Linked DNA regions of Homo sapiens. The gene in region 4 interacts genetically with the main gene of each other region. Each region holds a gene or a part of one and is shown on either strand. Other genes may lie near its edges.

The links.
Region 1: changes in NUP43 (region 4) and CDCA8 together harm fitness less than expected from each alone (positive genetic interaction), as found in Homo sapiens cells (one large-scale study listed by BioGRID).
Region 2: changes in NUP43 (region 4) and MCM3AP together harm fitness more than expected from each alone (negative genetic interaction), as found in Homo sapiens cells (one large-scale study listed by BioGRID).
Region 3: changes in NUP43 (region 4) and RTF1 together harm fitness more than expected from each alone (negative genetic interaction), as found in Homo sapiens cells (one large-scale study listed by BioGRID).
Region 5: changes in NUP43 (region 4) and SEH1L together harm fitness more than expected from each alone (negative genetic interaction), as found in Homo sapiens cells (one large-scale study listed by BioGRID).

The regions. Positions count from the first base shown.
Region 1 is NC_000001.11:37,706,016-37,711,978, forward strand, and holds the end of CDCA8 (borealin), read left to right. Parts: intron 1-962; coding exon 963-1,049; intron 1,050-2,306; coding exon 2,307-2,351; 3' UTR 2,352-3,704; downstream 3,705-5,963.
Region 2 is NC_000021.9:46,270,719-46,276,681, reverse strand, and holds part of MCM3AP (germinal-center associated nuclear protein), read left to right. Parts: intron 1-1,356; coding exon 1,357-1,496; intron 1,497-3,096; coding exon 3,097-3,294; intron 3,295-3,852; coding exon 3,853-4,121; intron 4,122-5,963.
Region 3 is NC_000015.10:41,464,041-41,470,003, forward strand, and holds part of RTF1 (RNA polymerase-associated protein RTF1 homolog), read left to right. Parts: intron 1-730; coding exon 731-845; intron 846-2,100; coding exon 2,101-2,212; intron 2,213-5,963. UniProt on the Homo sapiens protein: Component of the PAF1 complex (PAF1C) which has multiple functions during transcription by RNA polymerase II and is implicated in regulation of development and maintenance of embryonic stem cell pluripotency.
Region 4 is NC_000006.12:149,725,901-149,731,220, forward strand, and holds part of NUP43 (nucleoporin Nup43), read right to left. Parts: intron 4,864-5,320; coding exon of another isoform or gene 4,733-4,863; exon of another isoform or gene 3,619-4,732; coding exon of another isoform or gene 3,590-3,618; exon of another isoform or gene 2,661-3,589; coding exon of another isoform or gene 2,620-2,660; exon of another isoform or gene 2,580-2,619; intron 2,579-2,579; coding exon of another isoform or gene 2,490-2,578; exon of another isoform or gene 1,299-2,489; coding exon 1,069-1,298; 3' UTR 1-1,068. UniProt on the Homo sapiens protein: Component of the Nup107-160 subcomplex of the nuclear pore complex (NPC). The Nup107-160 subcomplex is required for the assembly of a functional NPC.
Region 5 is NC_000018.10:12,956,884-12,962,846, forward strand, and holds part of SEH1L (nucleoporin SEH1), read left to right. Parts: intron 1-5,963. UniProt on the Homo sapiens protein: Component of the Nup107-160 subcomplex of the nuclear pore complex (NPC). The Nup107-160 subcomplex is required for the assembly of a functional NPC.

The DNA.
Region 1 (5,963 bases), on a different chromosome or scaffold from region 4:
GGCCAGGATGGTCTCGATTGCTTGACCTCGTGATCCGCCCTCCTCGGCGTCCCAAAGTGCTGGGATTACAGGCATGAGCCACCGTGCCCACCTTTTTTTTTTTTTTTTTTGAGATGGAGTCTCACTCTGTCGCCCAGCCTGGAGTGCAGTGGCACGATCTCAGCTCACTGCAACCTCTGCCTCCCAGGTTCAAGTGATTCTCCTGCCTCAGCCTCCTGAGTAACTGGGACTACAGGCACATGCCACCACACCCGGCTAATTTTTGTATTTTTAGTAGAGATGGTGTTTCACCATATTGGTCAAGCTGGTCTCAAACTCCTGACCTCAGGTGATCCACACACCTCAGCCTCCCAAGGTGCTGGGATTACAGGTGCAAGCCACCACACCCGGCCTCCATCTGTTCATCAACTAACATTTGCCCATCCGATTGTAGTAGGCCCAAGAAGTAGACATGGGGCCTGCCCTTAGAAAGCAGCTCAGTGGTCAAGATGGGTTTGCAATCATGGTACCTGTGATATGCGCAATAATAGAGATGTTAAAGGGTGGTGCAGAGGAGGGCACCACCGAGGTATGCGCTTAGTCTAGAACCCGGACCATGAGCTGTGCCTTCAGCTTTGTATAACTTAAGGGATTCTGAAGCAAGCTGAGCTCAGTGTCTCTGGGCTGCATGGAGCGAGTTGCTGACCTCAGCCCCTGTGAGGGGAGGACGGTTTGTTTCAGACATACTCTGCAGGGCATTTCTTAGATGATGTGCGTGCCTTTTGTGCCCAGGTAATCCAGCCTCCACCCTAGTGATAGTGCTGATGAAGTCATTGTCTCCTTAGAGCTAATATCCTTCCTGCCTGTCTTGCCACTTCTCCATCCCAGCCATTCCCCACCACTAAGTGCAGGATATCAGGGGAACCTAGGGGTTCCGGCCCTAAGGGCCATGGCCAGTTTAACCCACTCCCCTTTCTATTCAGAGCCTGCGATTATTGGCCAGTGACTTGCAGAGGCACAGTATTGCCCAGCTGGATCCAGAGGCCTTGGGAAACATTAAGAAGCTCTCCGTAAGTCTCATATTCATCTCCACACATAGGATGCCTCCAGTAGCTTTCTTGGGCTACCTTTATTTAGGATTGTCTTTTGGGCCTGGGCTAATACTTTCTACTTAAATTTGTGTTGTCTTCCTTCCCCCAAGAGATTTTGACTCTTACCCTACTTAGATAGCAGCAGTTCTGTTCCTCAGTTGATGTTGAGTTTTGTTCAATCCCAGGGTGCCTGCCACAGAAGTTCCACTGCAAAATCAAAATTCTGCCTCATTCAGGCAGTTAGTGCTAGGGGTATGTTAGGTCACTATTGGCCACCAGAAAGTGAAACCTAGAGTAGCTCAAGAATGAGGGTCGGGGCTTGTTATCAGGAATCTTACAGAATCAAAGAGCGAGCTGAACGGCCAAGCCTCTGGAGTGGTGGGGCCCATCAGCTGGGGCCTGTGTGCTCATTTCTCTCACACATCTTCATTCCTCCCTCAGCAGATAACCTTCTCCACAGGCTCCAGGTTCTGTGCTTACTTAACATTGTTTTGCATGTGGCTTTGAGTAACCACACCTCCAATCCCAACTTTATTGCTCTATTGCCCAATTGTTCAATTTCTTGTCTTGGTTTAAATTCTGAAGAGGGCCAGGCACAGTGGCACACACCTGTAATCCCTGCAGCTCAGGAGGCTCAGGTGAGAGAAATTGTTTGAGCCCATGAGTTCAAGGCTGCAGTGACCCATGATCGTGCTGCTGCACTCCAGCCTGGGTGACAGAGAAAGACCTCAGCTCTAAAAATAAAGTAAATTATCAATTTAATTTAACTGAAGAATGTAATGGCTCCGCCAGGGATGAACCTCCTTGGTCTGGTCAGCCATCATCTTGGGTGGTGGATGAAGCACTTAGTGTAAACATGGCAACCTTACCCTCATCCTTCTGTGGGGTCTGAAGGGTACATCCAAGGAAGGGGACAAGGCGGGGCTGGTTTCCTAAACCTGTCTTTCTGAACATAGGCCCAGTGCTGAGATCCCACACACACCTAGCCACCCAAATCTTGTGACTGTCATCCTCTAGCTAGATCTATTGCAATGTTCTTCTCAAATCTATGATACCTTTACTGTCTCACTTGAGTTGTTATTTTACTCCCTTGTTCAGATGAGAAACAGGTTCAGAAAGGTGAATTCATGTGTGATACAGATAGAGAATGGAGGGGCTCAGGCTGACTGTGGGAGGCCAAGGGGCAAGCCTGCCAAGTGACATCTTCTACAATGACCTCTCTCCTTTTCTTTTTAGAACCGTCTCGCCCAAATCTGCAGCAGCATACGGACCCACAAATGAGACACCAAAGTTGACAGGATGGACTTTTAATGGGCACTTCTGGGACCCTGAAGAGACTTCTTCCCTTCAGGCTTATTGTTTGAGTGTGAAGTTCCAGAGCAAGGAGCCATGTTCCTCTAAGGGAATTCAGGAATTCAGACGTGCTAGTCCCACACCAGTTAGGTAGAGCTGTCTGTTCACCCTCCCATCCCAGCTGATCCCAGTCACTGCTTGCTGGGGCCATGCCATGGAAGCTTCCCATCAGTCTCCCAGCTGAATCCTCCCTGCTCTCTGAGCTGCTGCCTTTTGCCTCCTGCAACTCAACATCCTCTTCACCCTGCCCTGCCTGCAGTTGAGGGGGCGAAGAAGAACCCTGTGTTCTCAGGAAGACTGCCTCCACCACCGCTACCCAGAGAACCTCTGCATCTGGCATTTCTGCTCTCTATGCTTGAGACCGGGAGGTTTAGGCTCAGATAAGTGAGCTCTGGGCCATGAGAGGGTAGGTCCAGAAGGTGGGGGGAACTGTACAGATCAGCAGAGCAGGACAGTTGGCAGCAGTGACCTCAGTAGGGAACATGTCCGTCTACCCTCTCGCACTCATGACACCTCCCCCTACCAGCCCTCCTCTTCCTCCTCCTCCTCCTCCTGTGGGAGGTGGTCAGTGGGACTTAGGGATCTTTCACCTGCTGTGCCCAGTAGTTCTGAAGTCTGCTTGTGGAGCAGTGTTTTATGTTTATCCCTGTTTACTGAAGACCAAATACTGGTTTGGAGACAACTTCCATGTCTTGCTCTTCTACCTCCCTAGTTAGTGGAAATTTGGATAAGGGAACTGTAGGGCCCAGATTCTGGAGGTTTTATGTCATTGGCCACAGAATAACTGTCTCTAAGCTATCCATGGTCCAGTGGTCCCTGCCAAGTCTGTAGACTTCAGAGAGCACTTCTCTCTTATGGGGTTCATGGGAACAGGGGTGGGTGTGACTTGCTTGGTGGCCTCATTCCATGTGTGCCTGTGCCTGGGGCATGGACTTTGTTAAGCAGAGTCAGCAGTGAGGTCCTCATTCTCCAGCCAGCCTCTCTGCCCTGGAGAATCATGTGCTATGTTCTAAGAATTTGAGAACTAGAGTCCTCATCCCCAGGCTTGAAGGCACATGGCTTTCTCATGTAGGGCTCTCTGTGGTATTTGTTATTATTTTGCAACAAGACCATTTTAGTAAAACAGTCCTGTTCAAGTTGTATTCTTTTAAGTTCTTTTATTCTCCTTTCCCTGAGATTTTTGTATATATTGTTCTGAGTAATGGTATCTTTGAGCTGATTGTTCTAATCAGAGCTGGTACCTACTTTCAATAAATTCTGGTTTTGTGTTTTCTTTTGTAATCACTGTTCATCCTGCCTGTCCTCTCCAAGCTGTGCTCTGTGGACTAGGGAGACAGCAATTGTGTGGGAGTCTTTGCACATCTGCTTTTCTCAGATGTGAAAACCTTTGCTTTGGGCAGATTCATTCTGATATCTGAAAGAGGGGCTTACTACAAGATCCAGAGCATCGGTACCTTCAACCCCCAGCAGAGCGCCCCCAACACCTTCATTCCATGAGCTAGAAATTTGTGTCTGGGAGGACAACACCTAGGGTCTCTGTAATTTCCCAGTATAGTAGACTTTTCTTGGCCAGGAACAAAGCGGGGCAAGAGTAATTCGGTGATCATGAGTCTCACTTCCCAAAGTTTCTGAGGCCCTGGCAGATCTGCCTTCCCGGAACTCTCTAGGCTGAAAATGATCAACCTAGAGCTAATGATGCAAGAGGGTTCTGCCTAAAAGAAGACAACCTGGGGGCATACTTAGCCAGGTTATTGGGTATTGACAATTTATAGACTAGGAATCTTCTGGTAGTGACAGCATTTGGAAGAATGGTTACTCAGTGCAAATAAGCAACCCAGACTATATGTCATCAGGCCTAAAGAGCCTGACACCAAGGAAACACTTAGGATCCAACCTGCTTTACCCAGAACCAGGTTCATCCTGTTTCATTCCATCTGCACCACTGCCTAAATCACCTAGTAGGAAATGCATGTTATGTAGCAGGTGCCTAATTAACACCTGGGACTGAGACATGGCAGTTCTTCATTTCATATAAGGGGCTGGCTTGGAAAGTAAAGAGTTCCCCATCCCAGGATTGATTGATTGATTGATTTTTTGAGACAGAGTTTCGCTCTTATTGCCCAGGCTAGAGTGCAGTGGTGAGATCTCGGCTCACTGCAACCTCCACCTCAGGTTCAAGCAATTCTCCTGCCTCAACCTCCCAAGTAGCTGGGATTACAGGTGCACACCACCACGCCTGGCTAAGTTTTGTACTTTTAGTGGAGACAGGGTTTCGCCATGTTGGCCAGGCTGGTCTCCTGACCTCAGGTGATCCACCCACCTCCACCTCCCAAAGTGCTGGGATTACAGGTATGAGCCACTGTGCCCGGCCCCATTCCAGGATTTTTAAAAAAAATTTTGTTTTTTATCATTTGGTATTTTTGTTGATTTATTTTGTAGAACTTATGTCCCCACCATCCCAGGATTTTTAAGTACAGGCTGAACTATGTCACAGGGCTGGGACAAAGACAACCTAAATCTTACTGCCAGCCCCCAGACATACTTTCATACTCGTTGGGTTGGGTTTGGGTTTTTTTTTTTCCCCAAATTAGTTGCTAACCATTTAAATATCGGGCGATTACACAAAGATTGCTAGCCTCTGAAAATAAGATCAGACAGCACGGGCCAACAGTCAGCTGGAGCTCAGTAGCAGCTTTCCTTGGCCCGCAGAGAATCCTCTACCGGTTCAAAGCAATCCTGATGAGATTACTTCTTCCCTTGATGTTACCTGCCTTATCTCTGTAGGCAATTTAGTTTTTACTGTCTGCTGTGGAGAGAAAGCATAGAACAGTAGGGCTGCCCCAGGTTGAAGGGAGAATGGAGGCCTGGAGTCCATCCCCAGGGCCGCTGAGGCAGTTTTAAGGAACCCCAGAGGTCCAGTCAACAGTAGGTTCATTCTTTGTCCTACAGGGCCCCTGTTATTTCCAAAAGCCCTACTTGGGGCTTCCTGTTGAGAAGATTACAAATGTATTATCTTGTGACGAGTTAGATTATATTACTCATATGAAGAGTTAGCTCATGTGCGTGTGTGACAGGACATCACCTAAGCATTTCTCCAAAGCATCAGACATGCCTTTTACCAGGAGGAATTAATATCCCCAGCCTGACCCATGATAATGAGTTCACATACCAATGCAGGGCTTAGCTCCACGATGTATCCCCAAACCTCTGAAAAACAAAGCATGTCTCAGTGCCTACCTGTGTACACACTCTGGTGGGTCCATTTTCTAATTTTACACAGTATCATAGCTGTTGACCCATACCTAAAATTCAGCATGACATATGTACTCAAAACTTTCATAGTAGATACAATTCCTGTGGCTCCAGAAATGGAAGGACTGAGAGACACTCTTCAGAGAGGATTCAATCAGAATTGGGGGCTACACTGGGCTCCCTGCTAAAAGGGGGGTCTGGAATCCAATTTGCTTTGCCTAAGATGCCATCTCCCTTTAAGGGATTAAACATCTCCTCAGCCCTGTATCATCCCTACCTGCATCACCC
Region 2 (5,963 bases), on a different chromosome or scaffold from region 4:
ATCACCTGAGGTCAGGAGTTCGAGACCAGCCTGACCAACATGGAAAAACCCCATCTCTACTAAAAAGACAAAATTAGCCGGGCGTGGTGGCACATGCCTGTAATCCCAGCTACTTGGGAGGCTGAGGCAGGAGAATGGCTTGAACCCGGGAGGCTGAGGTTGCGGTGAGCCGAGATTGTGCCATTGTACTCCAGCCTGGGCAGCAAGAGCGAAACTCCATCTCAAAAAGAAAAAAAAAATCAGCTATAGGAGTTTCCTCTTTTTAAAAGCTGTGGATAATTTGAATAATCACCATGTTTCCTTAATATAATAACATATAGTAATAAAAGCTGCCATCAAACATCATATCATTGATACAGTGATTTTTATATTCTAAAAATTATTATTAGGTATTAGAATTTTTCTTTTTTTTTTTTTCCTCGAGATGGAGTCTTGCTCTGTTACCCATGGTGGAGTACCATGACAGAGTGAGCGCAACGTCAGCTCACTGCAACGTCCGCCTCCCGGGTTCAAGTGATTGTCTTGCCTCAGCCTCCTGAGTAGCTGGGACTACAGCCATGCGCCACCACGCCCGGCTAATTTTTGTATTCTTAGTAGAGATGGGGTTTCTCCATGTTGGTCAGGCTGGTCTCGAACTCCCGACCTCAGGTGATCTGCCAGTCTTGGCCTCCCAAAGTGCTGGGATTACAGGCGTGAGCCACCAGGCCGGGCCCAGGTATTAGAATTTTTCAACATGAAAACAATAAGTATATATTTTGAGTGTGAAGTTGTTGCATTTCCTTTTCCTTGCAAGCTACATTGTAACTTAAGTGTAATAGCAGTTTACTCATTCAGGTAAGAACCCAGTTAACGTCCATTATATGATTCTTATATTAAAGTCATGGTGAATACTGAGACAGTTTTAGAATAGTGATATATTTTGAATATTTGCAGTTGTTACAAGTCAATCCTTTTAGTAAACATCCTGCACCATGATTTTTTGTCATTGAGGTCATTACAGGAGTTAGAAAACTCCGGCTGAAAGTGAGGACACTCCCCTGCTTTTATCTGCAGTGAGGGTCTGTGACTGTTGGAGAGGTGACTCGGGGGTCTTTCTCTTAGTCTGCAGTGAGGGTCTGTGACTGTTAGAGAGAGGTGGACTCGGGTCTTTGGGAGCTTTGATGTCCCACTGCCTGGCATAATAGACCATAAGTCCTCTTTGTCTGAGGCTCTGAGTTTTACAAATGTTTTTCTTTTCTTTTGTAATGTGTGTGTGTGTTTTAAGTTTTAATTTCTTTTTATCATTATGAGAATACACTTCTGTAGGTTCGTGCTAACCATGTGGTACATTCTTACCTTTTACTTGACGTCATTTAGCTCGGGTGAAGAGAACCGATCTGGACAAAGCGAGGACTTTTGTTGGCACCTGCCTGGATATGTGTCCTGAGAAGGAGAGGTACATGCGGGAGACCCGTAGCCAGCTGAGCGTGTTCGAAGTGGTCCCAGGGACTGACCAGGTAGAGCCCTGCATCTCCCCGTGGAGTGTGGGCAGGGGACGGGGCTGCTTTTGTCATTTCTGTACATACTTGATTTGGGTGTTTGTTTTAGACAGTGTTGGGTATTTGTGCTATTAACAATCATATTAAGCTGTTTTGCATTGTGAGATGTTCACTCTGTAATTGGTACCTATACATGATAAGGTATAGATGCAAGTTATTTTAAATAAAGTTGTTTTTCAAATTCTTTTTTTTTTTTTTTTTTTTTGAGACAGGGTCTCACTCTGTCACCTAGGCTGAAGTGCAGTGGTCCAATCATGGCTCACTACAGCCTCAACTTCCCAGGCTCAGGTGATCCTCTCCTCTCACTCAGCTTACAGAGTAGCTGGGATTACAGGCATGCTCCACCACGCCTAGTTACTGTTTTATTTTTTGCAGCGATGGGGTCTTGCCGTGTTGCCCAGGCTGGTCCCGAACTCCTAAGCTCAAGTCATCTGCCCACCTCCGCCTCCCAAAGTGCTGGGATTACAGGCGTGAGCCACCACATCCAGCTAACTTTTTTCTTTTTACGATCTTATTCCTGTCTGTTTCTATGCTTATGTTTTACACATTCGAGATTATGCTCTAGATACAATTTTATGTGTATCTTTTCCACTTAAAATTATGTCATGAACATTTTCCTTTGTTAGGGTAAACTATGAGCATTTAAAAATGACAGCATATTATTTTATTAGTAGCTCTGTCAAAACTCTGCATTTTTACCATTAGTAGATAGGCTGCTTCTAAATTTTTAGTTCTATTAGTAATATTGTTTGGCATCTTGTATGTAATGCTTCTCTGGTATTTAGATTATTTTCTTCAGATCCTAAGAATTAAATTACTGCATCAGAGGGTATGACCTTTCCTGAACATTATCCATGTATCTTCCCAAATTGTTGCCCCAGAAAGCTGCACCAATATAGATCCTTTTGGACTTTGTGAATTTTGCTTATGGGCTTCTCCTCTTCCTGGCTGGTGGCTTTATACACCCTTCGCCTGGTGCGGGGTCCCCAGCCCAGCAACTCGTGTCACTGTAGGGCCCCTGCCCCAGGAGAGGCACATGCCCAGGGCCTTGTCCTGTGTACATCTCTGCCTCTTCCCTTGGCCACGTCTTCAGCCTCCTTTTGAGGTGGGAGATGCAATTCCAGGCCCCAGGTGGGCAGCCAGCCCCTGATGCTGTGTCCTCAGCAGTCCTCACCGCCTGTCTCTGTTTCACTTCTGCTCTGTGTAGACTTAATCTGGTGTGTGAGCGGGCCTGAGACCTTTTAAGTGCTTGAGGCCCTTCCCTGTCCCGTCTCTCTGCTTTGGAGGCTAGCAGATGTGCCTTCACTTAACATTCCTCCTGTTTGTCATGACGCACTCATATCTTAACTCCTTGTCATATTTGCCAAAATCAAATTTCTCTATTTGTCTTTGAATTTTGATTGTCACCTTTTAACAGAAATTTTATGTTGAAAAAATATATTCTCAAATACTGATCTTGTGTGGGTGTGTATGTGATTTTCCCCCTCATTTTCAGGCATAACTATGCCTGGCCCAAGGTATGCCACATGGGCATCCTGTCTCGGCTTCATGTCTCTAGGTGGACCACGCAGCAGCTGTGAAAGAGTACAGTCGGTCCTCGGCGGATCAGGAGGAGCCCCTGCCCCACGAGCTGCGGCCCTTGCCAGTGCTCAGCAGGACCATGGACTACCTGGTGACCCAGATCATGGACCAGAAGGAGGGCAGCCTGCGGGATTGGTATGACTTCGTGTGGAACCGCACGCGTGGCATACGGAAGGTATTGGCTGCCTCCAACCTGGATGCTAAAAAATCCACGCAAATTCCAAAGTCAAACTGATATTTTTATTACTCTGTTATATATTTTATCTGTAACAAAAATGTACTTTTGTGGGCCAGGTGCAGTGGCTCAGGCCTGTAATCCCAGCACTCTGGGAGGCCGAGGTGGGTGGATCACCTGAGGTCAGGAGTTTGAGACCAGCCTGGCCAACATGGTTAAACCCCATCTCTACTGAAAATACAAAAATTAGCTTGGCGTGGTGGCACACGCCTGTAGTCCCAGCTACTCGAGCGGCTGAAGCAGAATTGCTTGAACCTGGGAGGCGGAGGTTGTGGTGAGCCAAGATGACACCACTGCACTCCAGCCTGGCTTCTGTCTCAAAAAAAAAAACAAACCCCAGGACTTTTATTTAAGTCACTACAAAGTCCTATTAAAATGTGCATCATGGGCTTTGTTTCAAATTGAAAAGTGAGAAATTGAGGTCGTAGCATGATCCTTCTCACGGTTGCCTCTTTGCATGGGAATGTGTGTGTGATCCTCCCCCTCGCCTGTGGCCAGGATATCACGCAGCAGCACCTCTGTGACCCCCTGACGGTGTCCCTGATTGAGAAGTGCACCCGGTTTCACATCCACTGTGCCCACTTCATGTGTGAGGAGCCCATGTCCTCCTTTGATGCCAAGATCAATAATGAGAACATGACCAAGTGCCTGCAGAGCCTGAAGGAGATGTACCAGGACCTGAGAAACAAGGGTGTCTTCTGTGCCAGCGAAGCGGAGTTCCAGGGCTACAATGTTCTGCTCAGTCTCAACAAGGGAGACATCCTAAGGTGAATTTTCACATCCAAAAGTTGTCCTAAGGTGGCTGAAAAGGCAGGCTTTAAACAGGAGAAGAGCTTTCAGGAGTGGCAGTAGCCAATAGTGCAGCATTCTGTCTGGTAGCAGATGTTGGGATGATAGTAGAGGACCTTGGTCTGGCTTTGCAGTCGGCTGAGCTGAGCTGGGGGAAGAGCGATGGGGGTGTGCCCTGGGACCAGCACATCTGACGTAGGCCCCACATGTTCATTTCTGAAAATAGTTTCTCCTCACCAGTGAGAAAATGAGGAAGGAATCCTCCTCATGAGACAGGTGAGTGAACCAGGAGAGGGAGTTCCAGGTGCCCTGCAAGGTTGTTAGCAGTTCCCTGTTCCCAGATAGTTTTGTCAAAGATCTCAGAATAAGAGAGGAAAAAATTATGTAAAACAAAAATGCGAAGAATGGGGTAGTGAGAATGAATGAATGTAAAACCCTGGTCTGATCCATAATTAGTCACTTACATGCGAAGTCTGGCGAGCTCTCTGGCCCTCTGCTTGTGGTGGACCCTCTGCTTGTGGTTAAGCTGGACTTATGGTGGACAGTGTCCCCTTTAGTTCTAAGAATCCCCTATCAATGGTGAACCTCTTTTTTTTTTCTTTGTATTTTCCTCAAGAACTGTGTGACAGAATATCTAGATGTGTGGTTGATTTTAATTTTTTATTTCATTTTATTTTTGAGACCGAGTCCTGCTCTGTTGCCCAGGCCGGAGTACAGTAGTGCGATCTTGGCTCACTGCAACCTCCACCTCCTGGGTTCAAGCGATTCTCTTGCCTCAGTCTCCTGAGTAGCTGGGATTACAGGCACATACCACCATGCCCGCCTCATTTTTTTGTATTTTTAGTAGAGACAGGGTTTCACCATGTTGGCCAGGCTTGTCCGGAACTCCTGACCTCAGGTGATCCACCTGCCTCGGCCTCCCAAAGTGCTGGGATTACAGTTAGAGTCTCCATGCCCGGCTGATTTTAAATTTTAAAATTAAGCCTTGTATAGCCTGGGCAACATGGTGAGACCCTTCCACAAAAATGAATAAATAAATAAAATTAACCAGGTGTGGTGATGTGTGCCTGTAGTTCCAGCGACTGGGGAGGCTGAGGTGGGAGGATCCCTTGAGCCCAGGAGGTCAAGGCTGCAGTAAGCTGTGATCATGCCACTGTCCTCCAGTCTGGGTGACAAAGCAAGACCCTATCTCTTAAAAAAAAAAAAAAAAAACCCAGGTGTGGTGGCCCATGGCCTGTTATCACAGCACTTTGGGAGGCCGAGATGAGAGGGTTGCTTGAGGCCAGGAGGTTGAAGCTGCAATGAACTGTGATTGTGCCAGTGCACTCCAGCCTGGGTGATAGAGCAAGTACTCTGTCTCAAAAAAAAAAAAAATTAAACTGGTTATGAAAGATTGCTGTATTGTCTTTTTCTACGTGACAAGCATTTGTTCTCCATCACGAATAATTCAGTCAAAATCAATTCATTTCTAAACAAAAAGAGTTAAGTTTTCTGTTTTTTAGACTTTACCATCCAGCACAGCTGACAGTCCATTGGCATTACTTTAAAGTAACTTTTTGATAACTGATTCCTAAATTGCTTTTTGAATTTGTTTATTCTATTCATTATTGTTTTGAAGGAAACCTTTGTCAAACCAATCCAAGCGTGGTAGTTAGTAAACTATGAATTTAACGGCACATTTCACCAGTAAGACCCTCCTTCTCAGTATGGTTGAAATCCAGTATCATTATTACTTGAGACAGGGTCTTGCTCTGTCACCCAGGCTGGAGTACAGTGATGCGATCACAGCTCACTGCAGCCTCAACCTCCTGGGCTCAAAC
Region 3 (5,963 bases), on a different chromosome or scaffold from region 4:
GGGGTTTCACCATTTTGGCCAGGATGGTCTCAATCTCCTGACCTCGTGATCCGTCCACCTTGGTTTCCCAAAGTGCTGGGATTACAGGTGTGAGCCACTGCACCGGGCCTGTTTGTTTGTTTGTTTATTTTTTGAGATGGAATCTCACTCTGTCGCCCAGGCTAGAGTGGCGCAGATGAGTACAGCAATACCCTATATATGTTCTCTTTCTCTCTCTTTTTTTTTTTTTGAAACGGATTCTTGCTCTGTCGCTAGGCTGGAGTGCAGTGGCGCGATCTTGGCTCATTGCAACCTCCCTCCCGGATTAAAGCGATTCTCCTGCCTCAGCCTCCCAAGTAGCTGGGACTACAAGTGTGCGCCACCATGCCCAGCTAATTTTTGTATTTTTAGTAGAGACGGGGTTTCACCATGTTGGCCAGGATGGTCTCGATCTCTTGATCCCCCCGCCTCGGCCTCCCAAAATGCTGGGATTACAGGTGTGAGCCCCTGTGCCTGGCCCGTAGTCTCTCATTTTAAACATATTCCAACTTAATGCTATCAAATATTTTATATTTTGTTGTAATTAACATATTAAATATTTTTAATGTACTTAAAAGGTACACCAGAGTTTCTTGCAGGAAAGCCAAAATATCTATTAGCTCCTTTCCCTTAGTTCCTTTCTCCTATCTAATAGAAATCAGTTTTTATATACATTTCATTGCTACTTAAAAACCAAATATCTTTTAACCAGATTTGAAATCAAGAAAAAACTAAAAACAGCCAAAAAGAAAGAAAAGAAAGAAAAGAAGAAAAAGCAAGAAGAGGAGCAAGAAAAGAAAAAACTGACACAGATTCAAGAATCTCAGGTAGGAGATTCAGTGTTCCTCATTGTCCAAAGAATAAACCTGTTTTGAGTGTGTGTGTGTGTGTGTGTGTGTGTGTGTGTGTAAAAGGTGGATTTATATTAATCAGCCTAAGTTTATAAGACTTGTGACATGGTTTCATTAATCTCTGGACATATCACCATTAGCTGTGCTGTTAAATCCTTAGCACTTTTTCCTTTGCTTTCCTTTTTCCTTTTCTTTTTTCTTTCTTCTTTCTTTTTCCCTTTTCTTCCCCTCCCTTCCTCCTTCCCCCTTCCCTTCCTCCTTCCCTTCCTCTTCCCTTTCCCTGGTCTCATTATGTTGCCCGGGCTAGAATACAGTGGCTATTCACTGGCACAGTCATAACACACTGAAGCCTCAAACTCCTAGTCTCAAGCAGTCCTCCTGAGTTGCTGAGACTACAGGCATATGCTACCGTGCCCGGCTTTCACTGAAGTCTGCATTTAAAAAGCAGCCCTCAACTGCAGTGACTCACATGTGTAATCCCAGCACTTTGAGAGGCCGAGGCAGACAGATCACTCAAGGCCAGGAGTTTGAGACCAGCCTGGCCAACGTGGCGAAATCCTGTCTCTACTAAAAATACAAAAATTAGCCTGGCGTGGTGGCTTATGCCTTTAATCCCAGCTACTCGGGGGGCTGAGGCACAAGAATTGCTTGAACCTCAGAAGCGGAGGTTGCAGTGAGCTGAGATCATGCCATGGCCCTCCAGCCTGGGCAGAAGAGCGAGGCTCTGTTTTAAAAAAAAAAAGCAGCCCACTAGTGAGTGACCATCCCTTAAGGAAAAGTTGGTAAACAACCTGTCCTAGGTAGCCAGATGCTTATGATGTTTACTTAGATGTATATCATCCTTTACTTGGTATAAATATAGCTGGGAAAATAATCTCTGTATTTATCATAAATGAGACTCCATCTCAGAAAAACAACAAAAAAAGATAATGTGGGGCTGAGTGTAGTGGCTTATGCCTGTAATCCCAACATTAGCTGTGTTGTAGTGTGTTCTTCCAGAAAGAGTTTATTCGGATAATTCTTGAACTTGGAATAGGCATTTTAGACAGGGCTTACTTTACTGCGCTATCCTCTTTGTCCACAAGAGGATGCTCTCTCCCCTTACATAAAAGCTCTAAGTTTTTGCAGCCCATATAGATTGATGTTGGAGGACTAAATGCATTAAGTAGGTTTAGAGAATCTTATCAGCTGTTGGTAAAAAGGGCCATTCTATATATCCTTCCCTTCCTAGGTAACATCCCACAACAAGGAACGGCGTTCCAAGCGGGATGAGAAACTAGACAAGAAATCTCAAGCCATGGAGGAGCTAAAAGCAGAGCGAGAAAAACGAAAGAACAGAACAGGTAAGCGAGGGAAATATAATGGCTACTTGTGTCTTTATATGATTTGACTTCCTGGTGTCCATTTTCATTTTGCCCTCTTGTTATATCTTTCTCATATAAAATTCCAGCACATACCCAGAATAGTATAAACATCCACAAACCCATCATCCAGCCACAGCAGTCAGCTCTTGGCCAGTCTTGTTAAATCTATAATCCTTTCATCAGATTATTTTAAAGCAAATACCAGCATTATTATATTTTAACCATAAATATTTCAGTATGTTCCTCTAAAAGATAAGTACTTTTGTTTTAAACCTAACTATAATACCATTATTACACCTAGAAATAACAATGAACTCTTTGTCAAATATCTAGTCAGTGTTCAAATTTTTCTATTTGTTTTGTAATTTAAAAAACAAGATTTTAAAAACATTTCTATTTGTTTTGTAATTTAAAAAACAAGACCACTTGAATCAGGATCTTAAAGTCCATACATTGTGATCTGTTAATACGTCCCTTAAGGCATTTAATCTGTATGTTTTCTTCCCCATCTCTTTGCCCTGCCTTGCAGCGTTATTTGCTGAAGGAACTGGGTCATTTGTCTTCTGGTTTCTCACATTGCTGACTACATCTCGTTTTTGTTGTTGAATGTGTTTCTGGTCCCTTGGGTTTCCTGTAAATGGTTAGTTAGAGCTACAGAATTGGTCAGATTTGGGTTTGTTCTGTTGTTGTCATTGTTGCTTGTTCTTGGGGAAGGCTGATTTTTAGGTAGTGGTATGTATTTCCATCAGGAGACACATGATATCTGACTGTCTCTCAGTTTGTGATGTTAACAATCCTGTCAGTTAGCTCTTACCACAATAATGTGAAGTAACAAACTAACCCCTGTTCTGCTCATGCATCTGAAGTTCAACTGCAATTCACCCTCCTGATGGCATGAGTTCAGCTGGAATTATCTCCAAGCTATAGGTGGTAGCCAGGTCTGTTCTACCTCTCTCTTCCTCCCTGGGCCAGTAAACCCCGAGCACTTTTATATGGTGATGACAGAAGTATAAAAGGGGCAAGCAAAGACACACATGCCTCTTAGGGCCTAGACTTGGAATTGGCATAGTGTCACTATGGGGCCGGGAAGAATGACTAAGGCATATAGCAAAGGACATGGGTATAGAGATGGGTGAAGAATTAGAAAGGATACTGTGGGGGCCGGTCGTGGTGCCTCACAATTGTAATCCTAGCACTTTGGGAGGCCAAGGTGGGCGGATCACCTGAGGTCAGGAGCTTGAGACCAGCCTGGCAAACATGGTGAAACCCCATCTCTACAAAAAATACAAAAATTAGCTGGCCATGGTTGTGCATGCCTGTAATCCCAGCTCCTCAGGAGGCTGAGGCAGGAGAATCCCTTGAACCCGGGAGACGGAGGTTGCAGTGAGCTGAGATTCCGCCACTGCGCTCCAGCCTGGACAACAGAGTGAGACTCAATCTTAAAAAAAAAACAACAAAAGATAATGTGGGGCTGAGTGTAGTGGCTCACGCTTGTAATCCCAGCACTTCGGGAGGCTGAGGCTGGAGGATTGCTTGAGGCCAGGAGTTCAAGACCGGCCTGGCCAACATGGTGCAAGCCCATCTCTACTAAAAATAATAAAATTAGCCAGGCCAGGCACGGTGGCTCACACCTGTAATCCCAGCACTTTGTGAGGTCAGAGCAGGCAGATCACGTGAGGTCTGGAGTTGGAGACCAGCCTGGCCAACAGAGTGAAATCCCGTCTCTACTAAAAGTACAAAAATTAGTCAGGCGTGGTAGCACATGCCTGTAATCCCAGCTACTTGTGGGGCTGAGGCACTGAAAATCACTTGAACCCGGGAGGTGGAGGTTGCAGTGAGCCAAGATCCTACCATTGCACTCCAGCCTGGGCAACAAGAGTGAGACTCTGTCTCAAAAAAAAAGAAAAAGAAATAATAACGTGTTCTGTCCTAGTAGCCACTGATGGTCATTACCTAGATAATTTAATTCATTAGGAGTTGCAAAATGGTGATATTTCGAATCTGTCATTCTTTCCTCATTCATTATCTAGCCTGCTTCTATAAAGAGAAACCTTTTTTTTTTGAGACGGAGTCTCGCTCTGTCGCCCAGGTTGGAGTGCAGTGGCGCGATCTCGGCTCACTGCAAGCTCCGCCTCCTGGGTTCACACCATTCTCCTGCCTCAGCCTCCTGAGTAGCTGGGACTACAGGCACCTGCCACCACGCCCAGCTAATTTTTTGTATTTTTAGTAGAGAAGGGGTTTCACCATGTTAGCCAGGATGGTCTTGATCTCCTGACCTTGTGATCCGCCCGCCTCGGCCTCCCAAAGTGCTGGGATTACAGGTGTGAGCCACCGCACCCGGCCTAAAGAGAAACTTCTAATCAGCTATTTAGTTACCCCCCAGGCACATTTTGAACAGGAAAGGCAAGATAAATGCTTGATTAATTTTCCTTTCGTTTACCAGTTTTTGAAAGAATGAGATAGTTCCTGGCAAGGTACAGTGGCTCACATGTGTAATTCAAGACCAGCCTGGGCAACATAGTGAGACCCTGTTTCTGCAATATTTTAAAGAGAGAGAGAGAGATAGTTTTTAGCAACTTCCAAAGATGACTGATGGGTTTTATTTATTTTGAATATCCTTGTGAACTCATCATTTTTAACGTGCTTTATGTGTTTTAATCCATTGCAGTTATTTTTCCTTCCTTCCATCCATCTTTTTCTCTCTCTCTTTTTTGAGACAGGATCTCTCTCTGTTACTCAGTCTGGAGTGCAGTGGCGCGATCTCGGCTCATTGCAACCTTCACCTCCCGGGTTCAAGCGATTCTCCCACCTCAGCCTCTTGAGTAGCTGAGACTACATGCGTGCACCACCACCTAATTTTGTTTTGTATTTTTAGTAGAGATGGGGTTTAGCCATGTTGGCCAGGGTGGTCTTGAACTCCTGACCTTAAGTGATCCGCCTTGCCTTGGCCTCCCAAAGTGCATGAGCCAACACTCCCAGCCTAAAATTTTTTTATATTATTCTTTTTTCTTTTTAAATCGTAAGTACACAGATTAACCTGCCATCTTAGATTAATGGTAGCATATTATACACAGTTTTCTCTCTCTTTTTTTTTTAGCCACCACTCCTGGTTTGTTTTTTGTATTTTTGGTAGAGATGCAGATTCACCATGTTGCCCAGGCTGGTCCCAAACCCCTGAGCTCAAGTGATCTACCCACCTCGACCTCCCAAAGTGCTGGGATTACAGGCATGAGTCACCATGCCTGGCCACGTTCCTTTTTTTTTTTTTGAGATGGAGTCTCGCTCTGTTGCCCAGGCTGGAGTGCAGTGGTATACAGTCTTGGCTCACTGCAACCTCCGCCTCCCGGGTTCAAGCGATTCTCCTGCCTCAGCCTCCCAAGTAGCTGGGATAACAGGTGCCGGCCACAATGCCTGGCTAATTTTTGTATTTTAGTAGAGACAGAGTTTCACCATGTTGACCAAGCTGGTCTCGAACTCCTGACCTCAAGTGATCCACCTGCCTCTGCCTCCCAAAGTGCTGAGATTACAGGCGTAAGCCACCGCACCCGTCCCCACGTTCCTTTTTTATAGCTGCATAGTAGTTCATTGGTAGATGTACCAGTGGTGATTTAGCCACTCTCCTATTTTAAATTTTCCTCAGAAGCTTCTGAAGTCATCATGAGTCTTTCCCCCTCTTTCCTCCCCATAGTCAAGTGTCTTGAGTGCCATAAAAGAGAACTGTCAGTAGTGT
Region 4 (5,320 bases):
CATTTGATTAATCACACTTTTATCTATCACATTTTTAGTTTGGAAATAGTTTGCTTATCAATATAGAATTCTACTTTATTGCACAATGTCCAGTTTGGCAACTTTCAGCTATGCTGTGAAGCTAAACAAAAGCAAAGTTGGGTCTAACAAGCTGAAAGAGTTCTGCTCAAAAACCTATTCTGAAAAAGGAACTTGTCAAAACATTTTCACCTTAAAAAAATTTCAGGCCGGGTGCAGTGGCTCACACCTGTAATCACAGCACTTTGGGAGGTCGAGGCGGGTGGATCATGAGGTCAAGAGATCGAGACCATCCTGGCCAACATGGTGAAACTCTGTCTCTACTAAAATTACAAAAATTAGCTGGGCGTGGTGGCGCACACCTGTAGTTCCAGCTACTCAGGAGACTGAGGCAGGAGAATTGCTTGAACCTGGGAGGTGGAGGTTGCAGTGAGCCGAGATTGCACCACCGCACTCCAGCAGAGCAAGACTCTGCCTCAAAAAAAAAAAAAAAAAAAAATTGAACACAGCTACACATCTTTGTCATTTTTGCTCTACTCAATTCTTTCTGAAAAAGTTTATTATTATTAAGGAAATAAAGTGTGGAAGGATCATAGGAAATACTTGCAATAAAAAGAATAATCATTAACATTGGCAACTGCCACTAGGAAGGTGTATATGCCACATACTACTGATAAAAATTGTAGGAACCCATTGGTAGTTCCCATAACCACCATTGATGTGTTAATTCCCACAACATCAAAAATAAAGAATTAGTTCCACAAGCTGTCTGTCAATAATACTCTGAAGGCAACCTATTCATCAGCACCAGAATCCCACTGATTTTCTTCCACATGTTCACAATCTTTTGCCATCAGTCATCTATCGGATTCTACAACTGTTTGGGAGTGTCAGGCTAACAAAAGTCAAAACTGGGCATTGACATTAATGGTAGTTTACTGATGTTTCCCCTGCAAATCTCGTATTTTCTGATACTAAAATTTTGCACAGAAGTTGGATTTCAAAAGGCTAATTGCATGTTCTATCTGAAATCTTATAATTATAGTACTTCTACGAAAAAAGATGTCTAGTAACATAAATTGCTTCTGCATCGGTTCCACAAACAAGACAAGGACCTAAAACATCCAAAGTGTTCACAGACAGAGACCTACTGGGAAGTAAGCTTGTGATTTCAATTCGGTCTTTTGCAGGATCAGTGCTGAGCCAGGAGCTAATGACAGACTGGTGAACATTAGCTTGGTTACTAATGCTATGAGACAAAAAAGTACTGCTTCTTCCTCCTGGGAGAAAAAAAGAAAAGGAAGAAATCTTTCAAGATGATTTTTATATTAGTAAACATTCAAACTTCTACTGATATTTAGAAAGGTGATGATATCAATGTGTTTAATTCTCAGAATAATAGGCTAATAATTCCATTATTATACATCACCACTTTGGACCAAAGGCTTATTCAGTGATATTAAATATTCAAATTTCCATGGGATAATATGGATACCAAACTCGAAGTCTTCAGGAAAAGCAGGTGATTTCAACTGACTTTCTGTTCATCTTTTAATGGAAAGTCTCAGAAAGGTAGCAAAACGGCCAGCATACAAGTTGAATAAGGAAAGAAAAAAAAGAAACCAAAAATGTAGGTAATACATGGAAATATAAACTCTTGGGTAATAACAAAATAAAATGATCATGAGAAAGAATTTCTAGACATATTTCTAGATGAACATTTCTAGAAATATATTTCTAAATATATATTTGTTACTATATTTCTTAAAATATAATCGCCTTACCTCAAATCTTTCATTCTTATGCTTTTTAGATAAATGTTCTTACAAGCAGATTAGAACACTACTAGATTATAAGGTTTTATCTCTAACAGCGCACTGTACTTACTATAGAATAAAGTGAGGCAGAGGCAGTATATTTCAATTTTAGTCATTATTCGCAACTTACTTTCCTCTCAACTTGCTGTCATATCAAATAAGTACAAATTTAATTCACTCAACAAATGACTGAGTACCTACTATGTGCCAGGCTCTGTGCTAAGTGCTCTGTGCCAAGTCCCTATGTCTTGAAGCTTAAAGATTAGTACATTTAAAATCTTGCTGATCCTTTAAAATATGGCTGAACTTCCTTCTCTAAGAAAACTTTGAAGACAACCTCTACTTCATGTTTTTCTCTTTCCTTGAACCCTCAGCACTTGTATGTACCATTAATTTACTACTTTATAACAATTCTTATATCCTAATTGAACTATCCATGCCTCTGTCCATGACTAAATATGTCTTAAGAGCAGGATGCATATTTTATATGTTTTACTTTTTCACAGTGTCTAATACTGTGCCTTGCAATAGTAGACACAGAATAAAGTTTTATTTCCAGTCTAACCAAGGTTCCTTAAAAGTAAACTTGCAAGTTCAAGACTGTGCGGTTAGGGGAGGAAGGAAGTAAAAACGAAGTACATACTTAGTTAATCCTTAGATGAAACTGTTTGTTTCTCTGTAGATGAAGTTATAGCATGGACATGCATGCATGCTCCACACATGCTCTCCGCTCCAGAATTTTTCTGAAGAAGTTTTAGAATTTTTTTCCCCTTAGTTTTTCTGTTTATCTTTTACTGCCCCTACATTTTACATTGCTCTTGGACGCTGTAAAGATTAACACATTATTCAAGCCACTGTGATAAGACTCCTTCCTCATCTCCCTGTTTTCCACTTTTCTCCTCCCCCTCCCATAAGTCTAAAGTCCTTATCATGGGCTACAAAGTCCCAGGGCTCCTCAGCCACCAGTCCTTATCTCCCACCACTGTACCCTGCTGCCTGAGCTCCAACCGTGGTGTCCTTGCAGTTCTCTGCCTGTCTCAGGCCCTCAGCATTTGCTGTTTCCTCTGCCTGGAATGCTTTCATGTCACTTATGCCTTCACTTCTCTTAAGTCTCTGCTCAAATGTTCCTTCTGCCAAGTGGCCTCTTCTGACTCTCACTAGAGTAGCTCCCCTCACCCCTGTCTTTATTCTTTATCCTCCTACTCTGCTGTATTCTTCTTCATGGTAATTAGCAGTGTATTTGGCCATGTTATTTTCCTTTTTCTTTTTTTTTGAGATGGAGTCTTGCTCTGTTGCCCAGGCTGGAGTGCAGTGGCGTGACCTTGGCTCACTGCAACCTCCAACTCCCGGGTTCAAGCAATTCTCCTGCCTCAGCCTCCAGAGTAGCTGGGATTACAGGCACCCACCACCACGTTCAGCTAATTTTTGTATTTTTAGTAGACACAGGGTTTCACCATGTTGGACCAGGCTGGTCTTGAACTCCTGGCCTCAGGTCATCTGCCCACCTCGGCCTCCCAAATTGCTGGGATTACAGGTGTGAGCCACCGCGCCCGGCCTCCTTTTCCACTTTGCTGTGCTCCACTATATACTGTAGGAGGTAGAAGTTGGTAAACTCCACTTTCCAGGCTGCTTTGCCATCTGCCATCCAGATGGGCCTTGCCAATAGCAGGTATTAATGGTGGGTGACTGGAAGGCGGAAGGGAGAAGCAGCTCCTTCCTGCTCCAGGTTTCTGGCAACAACACTGGTGGTAGTTTCAGCCTGGTTGAGGGAGCGCCTTTTCTCCTAATTCAGAACAAACTTTTACAGCATTTTCAACAGTCAAGTAGCAGGGGTACTAACAATTACTATTTCTGGGTTTTCCCTTTTCTTCCTATTTGTTCTCCCAGCACCCCTCCTATTACCTTTTGTTTTCCCAGCCCTTCTAACACATGTGAGACCAATTCCTTCTACATCTAAGGTAGTTTCTGACATTCTAATTGGACTCTTACTGATACATTATCTATTTTTTTAACTATTAGAATATTTGCTCTATGCGTTTCGACATTTCGTTCTGCTCACTGTTACACGTCCTAACACCTAGAAGAATGCCTACCACATGGTAGGCATTCAGTAAATATTTCTGAATAAATGAATAAGCAAAAGAACTTTGGAGCCACAGACAAACCCTCAAAAACAGGAAACTTGGAAAATGCAAAAACACATAAACCCCGATTACAAGTGCATGGTCTTTGGCTGACCATAACCTACAACTGACTGTAATGAGGAAAGCACGCCCTTTTTTTTTTTTTTTGAGACGGAGTTTCGCTTTTGCTATCCAGGCTGGAGTGCAATGGTGCAATCTCGGCTCGCTGAAACCTCTGTCTCCTGGGTAAAAGCAATTCTCCTGCCTCAGCCTCCTGAATAGCTAGGATTACAGGCATGAGCCACCACACCCGGCTAATTTTGTATTTTTAGTAGAGACGGGGTTTCTCCATGTTGGTCAGGCTGGTCTCGAACTCCCAAACTCAGGTGATCCACCTGCCTTGGCCTCCCAAAGTGCTGGGATTACAGGCATGAGCCACCACACCCGGCCTGAGATCAGGCCATTTAACCAGTACCCTCAGTTACATCAAATATCAACTTTTTTCTTGCCATTCACACAAACTTGGCAATGCAATATGAAAGATTTGCCACTGTCTATGCTATGGCATGAGGGTCCAGGTTAATGGCACTCACAAAGGAGAACCTTGGCTGTCTCAAGTGAGCCAGCTTACAGCATTTCTAGCCATCAGCCATACAGTAGTAAGTAACTTGACAGTCAGATTTCAAGCCCTGTGATACTCAAATTTACTCTGAGGCAAGAGAATAAAAATGTTTTGCCATTAAGTAAAAAATACGAGGATGTCTAATTTGGTATTTAAAAGTATAAAATGGCTGGGTACAGCCAGCTCATGCTTATAATTGCAATACCTCGGGAGGCCCAGGCAGGAAGATTGCTTGAGCTCAGGAGTTTGAGAGCAGCCTGGGCAGCATAGTGAGAGCTCATCTCTACAAAAAAATTAAAAAAAAAAAATTAGCTGGTTGTGGTTGCAAGCATCTCTGGTCTTAGCTATTTGGGAGGCTGGGGCAGGAGGACCACTTAAGCCCAGGAGGGCGAGGATGTAGCGAGCTGTGATCATGCCACTGCAGTCCAGCCTGCATGTCAGAGTGAGACGCTGTCTCAAACAAAAAAAAAACAAAATAAAAGTATGATAAAATTACACATAACAGGCTGGGCACAGTGGCTCATGCCTGTAATCCCAGCACTTTGGGGAGGCTGAGGTGGTCAGATCACTTGAGGCCAGGAGTTTGAGACCAGCCTGGCCAACATAGCAAAACCCCATCTCTACTAAAAATACAAAAAAATTAGCCAGTTGTGGTGGCACACACCTGTAATCCCAGCTACTAGGGAAGCTAAGGCACAAGAAAAGCTTGAACCTGAGAGGCAGAGGTTGCAGTGAGCTGA
Region 5 (5,963 bases), on a different chromosome or scaffold from region 4:
GGTGAAACCCTGTCTCTACTAAAAATACAAAAAATTAGCCCGGCATGGTGGTGGGTGCCTGTAAGTCCCAGCTACTCTGGAGGCTGAGGCAGGAGAATGGTGTGAACCCGGGAGGCGGAGCTTGCAGTGAGCCGAGATCACGCCACTGCACTCCAGCCTGGGCGACGGAGCGAGACTTGTCTCAAAAAAAAAAAAAATTCTATAAAAATTGTTTCTTTTGTTTTGTGGTTACTTTTGTTTTCTTAGGAAATATACTGTCCTCGGCCGGGTGCGGTGGCTCACGCCTATAATCCCAGCACTTTAGGAGGCCAAAATGGACAGATCACCTGAGGTCAGGAGTTTGAGACCAGCCTGACCAACATGGAGAAACTCCCCCTCTACTAAAAATACAAAAATTAGCTGAGCATGGTGGCACATGCCTGTAATCCCAGCTACTCAGGAGGCTGAGGCAGGAGAATCGCTTGAACCCGGGAGGCGGAGGTTGTGATGAGCAGAGATCGTGCCATTGCACTCCAGCCTGGGGAACAAGAGCGAGACTTCGTCTCAAAAAAAAAAAAATACACTCTCCTTTATCTACATCTGCTTTTATCGCTGTCTTTGCCTTATTGGATGTTTGAATTTGGGCAAGAACATAATATAATCTGTGTGCTGTTGAAGTTCCTCATCTATAAAGTGAAAACATTGAACTAGATTATATTTAAGACTCTTTCCAGCATTTTCATATGAAGGTATTATCATCTGCATGCTTTTTTTCCCCCTTTATGATTTGTTTTTTGTAATAGATAATCATGCACATGGTGTAAAATTCAAAAGAAACAAAAGGAAGTGTGTAGTGGGAGTGTCCTGCTATTACCCCTCACCTGCCCTCCCTAATGGCATGATACTACGTTAGAGCCAGTCACAGCTCATTGCAGTCTCAACCTCCTGGGCTCAAGTGATCCTCCCACCTTAGCCCCACAAGTAGCTGGGATCACAGGCATGCACCACAGGCTGATTTTTTTATTTTGTAGAGATGGGGTTTCACCATGTTGCCCAGGCTGGTCTTGAACTCCTGGACTGAAGCAATCCTCTCACCTCGGCCTCCCAAAGTGCTGTGATTATAGGCGTGAGCCACTACGAGGGCCATGATGCAATTTTTTATTGTGGTAAAATATGTATAACATAATATTCCTCATTTTAACTTTTTTTTTTTTTTTTTTTTTTTTTTTTTTTTTTTTTGAGACAGAGTCTTGTTCTGTCACCCAGGCTGGAGTGCAGTGGTGGGATCTCGGCTTACTGCATTCTCCGCCTCCGGGGTTCAAGCGATTTTCCTGCCTCAGTCTCCTGAGTAGCTGGGACTACAGGCATGTGCCACCATGCCTGGCTAATTTTTTTGTGTTTTTAGAAGAGACAGGGTTTCACCATGTTGGTCAGGCTGGTCACGAACTCCTGATCTCAAATGATTCTCCTGCCTTGGCCTCCTGAAGTGCTGGGATTACAGGCGTGAGCCACCATGCCTGGCCCATTTTAACTATTTGTAAATGGTATAATTCAGTAGAATTAATTACGTTCACAGTGCTGTGTACCCATCACTGTTATCTGTACTCAAAACTGTTCATCACTGCCAACATAAACTCCATATTTTTAAAGAATGCCTCCCCCTTCCTCCTCCCTCTACCCCCTATTCAACTGTCTGTCTATAAATTTGACTAGGTACTGCATGTAAGTGGAATCACAGTATTTGTCCATTTGCAACTGGCTTATTTCACTAAGTAAAATGTTTTCATGGTCTGTCCATTTTGTAGCATATATTAACTTTATTCCTTTTTATGGCTGAGTAATATTCCATTGTGTGTGTATACCACATTTTGTTTATCCATTCATTTGTAGATGGACCCTTGGGTTGTTTCTACTTCGTGGCTATTGTGAATACTGCTACTATGAGCATTGTTGTACAGATAAATGTTTGAGACCGTGCTTTCGATTCTTTTGGAAATATACCTAGGAGTAGAATTGCTGGCTCATATGGTAGTTCTATGTTTCACGTTTTTAGGAACTGTCAGACTTTTCCATAGCAGCTACACCATTTTACATTCCTACCAGCAATGCTCAAGGGTTCCAGTTTTTCCAAATCTTCATCAGCACTTGTTGTGGTGCTATTTATTGTAGCCATCCTAGTGACTGTGTTGTGAAGTGGCATCTCCATTGTGGTTCTGATTTGCATTTCTCTAATAATTACTGATGTTGACCTTATTTTCATGTGCTTATTGGTCAATTGTATGTCTTCCTGGGGAAAATACTATTCATATCCTTTGCCCATTTTTTTAAATTGGGTTTTTTGTTGTTATAGGAGTTCTTTATATATTCTGGATATTAATCCCTTATCTGTTATAGGTTGAGTATTCCTTATCCATAATGCTAGGATCCAGAAATGTTTTGGATTTTGGATTTTGGATTTTGCAATATTTGCATTTATACTTACCAGTTAAGCATTCGCCTACTTATTTATTTACTTAATAGAGTTGCCCAGGCTGGTCTTGAACTCCTGGGTTCAAGCGATCCTCCACCTTGGCCCCCCAGAGTGCTGGGATTACAGGTGTGAGCCACCGTGGCCAGCCCCAGTTAAGCATTCTAAATCCAAAAACTTGAAATTCGGTATGCTTCAATAAGCATTTTCTTTGAGCATCATGCCAGTGCTCAAAAAGTTTTGGAGTTTGGAGCATTTCAGATTTCAGATTTTTGGATTTGATATGCACAACCTGTAAATGATTTGCAAATATTTTCTCCCGTTCTGTGGGTTGCCTTTTTCACTCTTGATGGTTTCCTTTGATGCACGAAATTTTAAAATTTTGAAGTCTAGTTTATCTAAATTTTTTTCTTTTGTTTCCCATGCTTTTGGTGTTATATCCAGGAAAGCATTGCCAAATCCAGTGTCATGAAGACTTTCCCCAATGTTTTCTTCTAAGATTGTTATAGAATCCTCAATTCAGGCTTGTATCCCCAATGTGGAGCTGAGAGCAAACACTGAGTCACCGGTACTTGGAGATAGAGAAAGGTTTATTCGATTTGGCTAAAGCAAGAAGATGGGAGGGCAAGATCTCTCGAATCCATCTAAACAAAAGGAAGCATTGGGTAGATTTTATGTGACTAGATCTAGTAAGGGAGGGGGAGTTTCACAGAATCCAGTGGAAAAGTCTGTGTTTCTTTGGTCTCAGGTAACGCCTTGAGCAACCAGATGTCTGGTTGTTAGCAGCTGGTCACAGTGTCCTTAAAGCCATTCATTTCTTCTGGCAACATTTTTCTTTACATGACGCTGAAGTTATCTTCTCTTGATTGACAAAGAAGCAGTACATCAACAGTTTATCATTATATTGTGGCAACAAGGGATATTCAGCAAAAAGTGAGTGGTTAACATGCGCAAGCAAGCAAGGGCCTGATACAAATTATTTATTTCAGTCATTAAAAAATGTTAGGGTGCTGAAATCTAGTTTTCCCAGCACCATTTCTTGAAAAGACCATTCTTTCCCCTGTTGAATGGTCTTGACACCTTTGTTGAAAATAATGGCTATATATATGGAGGATTGCATTCTGGGCTCTCTTGTGGACATTTATCTGTATGTCTCCTTGTCCTAATAGCACACTGTTTTAATTCCGGTAGCTTTGTAGCTTGAGTGGCTATTCAGACTGTTTTACAGCTCTTCTCAGGGGAGGAGTATGTCTGATTGCCTTTGCACTAGGGCTTCCCTAAGCCAAACAGCTGCTTATGGGGAGGAAGGAATAGAAATTTATAGAATTATAAAAGTTTTTTTGGCGTTAAGTCTGAGGTGTGTCAGTTCAGTATACTATAGATTGGATTTGGGAGTGGTGGCATAAGAAGGACTTTTCTTTGAATTTCAAGATACTTATTTGTATTTAGTTTAGTCATCTTTCATTAATATATTAGCAGTGGCAAATCCATATGGGTCTGCAGCAGCCTCATTTCTTGCCTCTTCAAAAGAAAGAATTCCACCTAGGGGCATAAGGCAGAGTAAGAGACTAAGATAAGTTTTAGAGCCAGAGTGGAAATTTGTTAAAAAATTTTACAGCAGAAATGAAGTAAAATACATTTGGAAGAGGGCCAAGTGGGTGACTTGAGAGAGTCAAATGCATGGTTTGATCTTGGACTTGGGTTGTTACACGTTGGCATGCTTCCCAGGGGTTGCGTCTCTTCTCTGATTCTTCCCTTGGGGTGGGCAGTCCGCATGTGCAGTGGCCCACTAGTGCCTGGGAGGGGCTGCGTGTGCAGTGTGTTTACTGGAGTTGCGCAGATGCTCACTTGAGGCGTTTTTCCCTTAACAGAATGTTCCTAGAAGGTCATAGATCAGTTAAGCTCCACCATTTTTCCTCTTAGTGCACATGCTTGAGCCCAGTCATCCAACTCCTCAGATCTTATCAGGAAGCTGCTGATCACCAGTTTCAGGTGTTTCTATCTGTTGGGAGACTACCTTTCCCTGGCACTGGCTGCAACCAATGATTAGTTTAGAGAGAAAGTTTAACAACTGCCTGATCATCACCTGATGGTTGCTTGACATTCCTGGTGGGGTGGGGTCCTCTGCTGCCCTGCTCATGTCTGACTACCTACTGTAACAAATGCATTTATTTTCTCAACATTTGTGTTTGTATTAATTATTCAGTGGTGTCTGTAGACAAAAGTTTGCTAAGATGTTATCTTTGAAGTTTATGTAATATTATCCTTTTAATGTTGAGACTCTTTAAGAAGGATTTTGGTAACCATAGACAGTAATCTGTTGATTGCTAAACTTTATTGACTTAGTTTTTTTTTGAGACAAAGTCTTGCACTGCCACCCAGCCTGGTGTGCAGTGGCATGATCTCGGCTCAGTGCAGCCTCCGCCGACCACACTCAAGCGATTCTCCTGCCTTAGCCTCTCTAGTAGCTGGGATTGCAGGCGCCCGCCACAATGTCTGGCTAATTTGAATATTTTTAGTAGAGATGGGGTTTCACCATGTTGGACAGGCTGGTCTTGAACTCCTGACCTCAAGTGATCACCCGCCTCAGTCTCCCAAAGTGCTGGGATTACAGGCGTGAGCTACTGCACCTGAGCTTATTGATGTTTTTAGTAAAGTTTCATCTTATCTGTGTGCCAGAAGATAACTTTTAAATGTGATGTTGGAATTTTACAGTGATCATAAAGCTTGCTTTCTACCATTCTTTTGGTCCCTGTTAAAAGCCTTCACTTAAAAGTGCATGGTAGCTGGGTGCAGTGGCTCACACCTGTAATCCTAGCAACTCGGGAGGCTGAGGTGGGAAGATCAGTTGAGGCCAGGAGTTTGAGACCCATCTGGGCAACATAGTGAGACCCCCCCATCTCTATAAAAATAAGAAAAATTAGCTGGGCATGGTGGCAGGTGCCTGTCATCCCAGCTACTGGGAAGGCTGAGGCAAAAGGATCACTTGAGCCATGATCATGGTACTGTACTCCAGCCTGGGTGACAGAGCAAGACCCTGTCCCTAAGAAAAAAAAAAAAATAATAATAATAGTGGTCCAAATGGGATTAACAGAAAATTATTCTTGAGAGAAGAAATTGCATGCCTTTCTTTTTTTTTTTTTTTTTTTTTTTTTTGAGAGAGGGTCTTACTCTGTCACCCAGGCTGGAGTGCAGTGGTGCGATCTTTGCTCACTGTACCTTCTGCCCCACTGGCTCAAGCGATCCACCCGCCTCAGCCTCCGGAATAGCTGGGGCCACAGGCGTGCACCACCACACCTGGCTTTTTTTTTTTTTTAGTTTTTAGTAGAGACGGTGTCTTGCCATGTAGCCCAGGCTGGTCTTGAACTCCTGAGCTCAAGCAGTCTGCCTGCCTCGGCTTCCCAAAGTTTTGGGATTACAGGTGTAAGCCATCACGCCCAACTCATTTACAGTTAAAGGGTCTAATGCTTGCAGCATGCTTTGTGTGACAAAACTTCTTGTCTGAAAATTCTAACAT